Regions from separate parts of the Homo sapiens genome. Here region 2 is linked to region 1. A link means that fine-mapping ties the variant in region 1 to the expression of a gene that starts in the linked region. Tissue or cell type: whole blood. Region 1 holds a variant in brackets; the other region holds the start of a gene. All regions are shown on one strand. Distances are between the middles of the regions. Region 1 has its middle 26 kb from the start of UACA. Region 2 holds the start of UACA (uveal autoantigen with coiled-coil domains and ankyrin repeats).

Evidence for each region. PIP is the estimated chance that this variant, and not a neighbour inherited with it, causes the effect. A credible set is the group of variants that fine-mapping cannot tell apart.
Region 2: it holds the start of UACA, and the variant in region 1 is the best candidate, but not a certain one, in a credible set for the expression of UACA in whole blood (INTERVAL, PIP 0.51).

The regions. Positions count from the first base shown.
Region 1 is chr15:70,787,823-70,790,733 of GRCh38, forward strand. No RefSeq gene overlaps it. Among named protein-coding and RNA genes, the nearest start is that of UACA, 26 kb to the left of the region's middle. The variant G/A (reference allele first, on the strand shown) is at 1,324.
Region 2 is chr15:70,761,804-70,764,714 of GRCh38, forward strand. It overlaps UACA (uveal autoantigen with coiled-coil domains and ankyrin repeats), which reads right to left and starts at 1,755. Exons shown (of 19, transcript NM_018003.4): 1 at 1,527-1,755. The coding sequence starts at 1,604. RefSeq lists a silencer at 1,520-1,929.

The sequences.
Region 1 (2,911 bases):
TGTAATCCCAGCTACTTGGGAGGCTGAGGCAGGAGAATCACTGAACCTGGGAGGCGGAGGTTGCAGTGAGCTGAGGTCGCTCCACTGCACTCCAGCCTGGGCTACAGAGCAAGACTCCATCTCAAAAAAAAAAAAAAAAAAAAAAAAAGTAAGGGTTTCACTTTGTGCCTATCTTGGAGCAAATGACCAAAAGTGTTTCTCTTATGCATGTATTTGTTCAGTTACTCTCTGAGCACCTTCCAGGAGTTGAAAGAAGTGCCTGAGTACTAATCCTTTTTCAGGCTCACACACTCAAACCCCTCTACATAGTTTTCCAGCTCAGCAGCATACTCTTAACTCCTCCTTTTCTGTACTCATAGCAGTCAGCATCTGTTCAACTCATTTCCTAATCTATCCCATAACCTCTCTTTCACTCTGAAGTTTAGCCATTAAATTGTTACCTCATTTCTCAAAGGCATTTGCCATATCTCTAACCAGATGTGAGATCTGAAGGGCAGAAACTGGACTCTGCACTTCCTACCTCCCACAGAATCTAATTCAGTGTCCTCCTCATGGGTAGTGCTCAATTAATGGTCCTTAATTGATGGGTCCATTAGCATTGTGGGTGTACAAAGGCATATAAGTGGACGTTCCTGTCCTCAGGAAAGATTCAGTGTAATTGAGGGAGATGGTGAGACCTGAAGAGTTAGGTGACAGTTGCAAGCAACATCACCAGGACTGTGATTCATTGTCAATAAATGCAATAGGTCAGTGGTTCCCAACCTTTGGACCCTAGACCTCTTGTAAACTATGGGTTATGCTAAGCATCACAAATCCTTATATCTGTAAGATGACTCAGACATGTCTCAAATGGTAGTCTCCTCCCCACTTATCTATGGTTTGGCTTTCTGATGTTTGTTACCCACAGTCAACCAAGGTTTGAAAATATGAAATGGAAAATTCCAGAAATAACCAATTCATGAGTTTTAAAATGTGCACTGTCCCACTTTATCCAGCCTGGGATGTGGACCCTCCCTGTGTTCAGTGGATCCACACTGCAGACACTACCTGCTCGTTAGTCACTAGATAGCCATCTCTGTTATAAGACGACTGTCACGTATCACGGTGCTTGGGTTCAAGTGACTCTTATTTTACAGGATAACAAGGCCTTGAATAACGTTGTCCTTTTTTTTTTTCTTTTTTTTCTCTGAGTTGGAGTCTCACTCTGTTGCCCAGGCTGGAGTTCTGGAGTTCAGTGGCATGATCTCAGCTCACTGCAACCTCCGCCTCCCGGGTTCAAGCAATTCTCCTACCTCAGCCCGGAGCAGCTGGAATTACAGGCAC[G/A]TGCCACCACACCTGGCTAATTTTTGTAATTTTAGTAGAGAACCCTGTCTCAAACTCCTGACCTCAAGTGTCTACCTGCCTCAGCCTCTCAAAGTGCTGGGATTACAGGCATGAGCTACTGTACCCGGCCTCTGTTATAATGTTGATAAGAAAAAAAAAAAATAAATTCTTGTCTGGGGCCGACATCTGTGTGGAGTTTGCTTGTTCTCCTCATGTCTGCGTGGGTTTCCTCCCACATCCCAAAGATATGCACATGAGGTGAATTTGCATGTCTACCTCATCTCAGGATGAGTGAGTGTGGGTGTGAGTGTGGGTGTGGCTGCACGCTGTGAGATAATGGCACCCTCTCCAGGGTGGGTTCCCACCTTGCACCCTGAGCTGCTGGGACAGGCTCCAGCTACCCATGGCTCTGAACTGCAATAAGAATGTAAATAATTATCTTACTTGCTTTTAATAATGTTTCTTAAATACATGCATAGCTCACATTTATTGTAAGGTTTAATATGAGTAGTTTGGCATATATTTAGAAGTTTGATGACAGTTTTGTCACCAGAAATATGCTGAGGGAACTTAACTATTGTTTGTGTCATTAACCTATGGTAAAATTGATTTCCTTATATGTTGTTTCACTTAAAGTCCTAGTTTCTTTTTTTTTTTTTTTTTTTTGAGATGGAATTTCGTTCTTCTTGCCCAGGCTGGAGTGCAGTGGCGCAATCTCGGCTCACCACAACCTCCGCCTCCTGGGTTCAAGCGATTCTCCTGCCTCAGCCTCCCGAGTAGCTGGGATTACAGGCATGCGCCACCATGCCTGTAATTTTGTATTTTTAGTAGAGACGGGGTTTCTCCGTGTTGGCCAGGCTGATCTCGAACTCCCGACATCAGGTGATCCGCCCACCTTGGCCTCCCAAAGTGCTGGAATTACAGGCGTGAGCCATGGCACCGGGCCTAAAGTCCTAGTTTCTGAGAACCTATTGATGATGTTAAGTGAGGACTTACTGTACTTAATGGCCCCAAAGCATAAAGAGTAGTGGTGCTGGCAATTTGGGTATGCCAAAGAGAAGGCATCAAGTGCTTCCTTTGAGGGAAAAGATAAAAGTTCTCCACTTAATAAGGAAAGAAAAGATACTGCATGATGAGGTTGTTTAGATCCATGATAAAGGCCAGGCATGGTGGCGCACATCTGTAATCCCAGCACTTTGGGAGGCCAAAGCAGGTGGATCACTTGAGGCCAGGAGTTCGAGACTAGCCTGGCCAACGTGGCAAAACCCTATCTCTACTAAAAATGCAAAAAAATTTAGCTGGGTGTGGTGGTGCATGCCTGTAATCCCAGCTGCTCAGGAGGCTGAGGCACGAGAATCGCTTGAACCTGGGAGATGGAGGTTGCAGTGAGCCCAGATTGTGCCACTTATCCCAGCCTGGGTGACAGATCAAGACTCTGTCTCAAAAAAAAAAAAAATAAAATAAAATAAAAAATAAAAATACCATGATAAGGAGTTTGTACTAGTTTGGCTGTCACACACCAAACTGCAAAAGTTACTGCCACAGTGTGTGGTAAGTGCCTAGTTTAGATGGAAAAGACATTAATTTT
Region 2 (2,911 bases), 26 kb before region 1:
TCATGCTGATAATACCTACTAAATACTCTGCATTTCTAGAAAACTGGATAAAATTAAGGCATATAAACCTCCAAGTGGGATTTACATCCTTAGTGCAAATCAAACACAACCAGGGAAAACAAAGCTAATAAATCTAGAAACTTGTATCTTCTATAAGGCTAAAAACACAACTTGCATTACAGAAGTAGAATCTTAACTGTAATGAACTCCAATATCACTAAATGACATTTCTGCCAGTTACTTTTTTTAAAAAAAAAAGTGAAACAAAGTAATCTCTGTTTTCCATGAGCTTATAAAACGACTTCATGCTTTATCAAAGAACATCAATTACGTCATCTGAATCTACTCTCTTTTTTTGAAATAGGAATTTAAGTCTAGGTAGTTCCTCCACAATTTCCTTTATGTCCAAGTAAAATAATCCTCGATATAGGTGGAGAGAAAGGCATAACTGAATTAACTCAAAAAAGCAGAAGCAGATTAATTAGTATTCTGATAAAAAGAATATAATCATTTGGTAAAATCTGCGTTGAATTGTAAAGGTTCATTTTAATTACCCCAACTAGGTAACTGTGCAGTTGGAGCATAACAACTCCTTTACGTTCGACTCTTCCAAGACTTTGTAAGTGGCACTTATTTTAATGATATAGAATTTTGATGATATCGCCATTCTTGTAACGTGACAAATTATCTAAATCACAACATCTGCGGTCAGGCTGTTTCTCAAGATTTCTGTTCTCCTGCCAACTAAAGAGGCCCCGACTACTCCTTGGCGCGCACACTGAGGCCGCGCTGCAGGTCAGCACCGAAAGAGCCCCGCACGGATCCCGCCCCACAGGTGCGATTTACACAACCCACATCACCACCACCCCTCCCAACTTCACCACCTCTAGGGTCACCACCCTGTGGGGTTTTGTCTTTACGACTAAGCCGATTCCCTCTGCCTCGCTGGGGAATCAAACTTCCCAGTGACAACGACAGCGGCCAGCACGGGACGTCCACCAGCCCGGCAGGGCTTGACGCTGTCTCAGACCCGGGGAAGGTCCGGAGTCCGGGCACGGTGGCGCGGGGTGCGCAGCCCTGCCCACCTGCCCTACCTGGTGCGAGCCCCGGCCCCGGGGACTGGGGAGCCAACACGGCCGAGCGGGCGTGGGCAGCAGGGCGAGCGCCGGGAGAGGAGAGCGACGAGGGGGGGTCAACGGAAAGAGCGGAGTAGGGGTGCCAATCGAGGAACTTTGGATTTAGGAGGAGGGGGCCAGAACCGCCCCACTGAGGTTTCTTCCAGAAGTTCGGAGGCTTGGGAGAAAGGGGTGGGGAAGAGACCCGTAGAGGCTCGGGTGCGGCGGCGGGGAGGATCCCCGGGGTCTCTGGGCTGACGGAGTCTCCGGCCTCAGGGAGGAGTCGCCAGGGCCGCCGAAGCCGAACTGGCAGAGGAAAAGCAGAGGAAGGCGGCGCGCGAACTCGCCAGCAAAGGAGGGCTGCGCTGCTCCCGGAGCGGAGCGCCTCGCAGCCCGGACCGCGGGACTCACCGCGCTGGCGGCGGCGGCGCCAGACGACGCGGGGCCGGGCACGTCCTGCCTCCTCAGGCGGGACTTGAGGCTCTTCATGGCTAACTCTTGCCTGGCCCCCGCGCGAACCTTAAAGGCTGCGGAGTGCCAGCGCGCAAGGAGTAGACGGCAGCGGCTGCAGCAGAGGCGGCGCGGGCTGTACCAGCCCCACCTGCCTGCCACCTGCGGGCCCCGGGCAGCAGACGTCGACAGGCCTGAGGCGGGGCTCCCCTCCCGTAGCCAATTGACCCGCTGCCCTGGCGGGGGCGTGGCAAACCGCGACCAATCGGAATGCGGGAATGGGGCGGGACTTCCCTTTTAAACTGAGTAACACCCTTCCTCTCCCAGCTGGAGGAAAAGTTTGGGAACTTTAGCCCGGGAAGGGGCGGAGGAGGTGGGCGGCCAGAGGCGTGGAGATGCGCGCAGGCCGGGCTCCAGGCCACCGGCGCCCGCCCACCCGGAGCTTAAGATCTAGAGAGAGCACGGGGTCCCGCCTTTGCCACCTCTCATCTTCCCGGACTCCCCTCCTCTTTCCACCCACGCGCTCTTTACCAAGTAAAGTTCCTTCCCTTCCGTCTGGTCTTAGAAATGACTCTTGGTTACCTGCACACAGAACAGCTTTCAGGAGCAACTTCTTTTCAGTCTCCTGTTTTACTACCAAATCCTGGTGCCTGGAAACCACCACACGCATCAAAAATTCCAGAAATAAACAGTCTCTAAGAAATAAGGTGCTGATTGTGCAGAAAAACGTACAGTTAAGAAAGACCTTGAAAGACGTTATAGTAAGTTACAGTACAAGTTACGTGCTCGTTTATTTGTTGAGTGAAGAATCCGCCGTATTGGAAGCAAAGGGACGGAATGGGGGCGGGGAGGGAGGAGAAGAGGTGCCATCAATTAAAAATGACTCCCACAGCCAGTGATTTAAGTTGTCAAAAAAAGTTACGCCCTTTTTTCTTCAAAAAGGTTTTTTGTTTTCTGTAGAAACACATTACATGTAAACGTATACGATGAAGTTAAATCATCTTACCTAGAAATCTGGGTTAGTAAAAATTATTTAAGAGGATGAAGAAACAGGAAGGTGCTCAGCACCCAATAATTTGCTGTTCGGGTGACATCTTCAAAAGTCTTCTTTGGAGTCATTTTTCCCCCCAGCAAAACGTTTATCGTAGCATGCATCCATTTGAAAAGACAAACGGTCCACATTTTCTGACTAACAAAGGACTCTTTTTTGTCTGAAAGGTCAGTTGCTCTCTTTAGAGTTTCTTTATAGTAACGCAAGGTTTTCTTCAAATACTGTAAGAAAGTTTTCAGAATTTCTTGGAGAGGCAGCATTCAAAGACTGTGTTAACCCTATACAACAAGTAAAT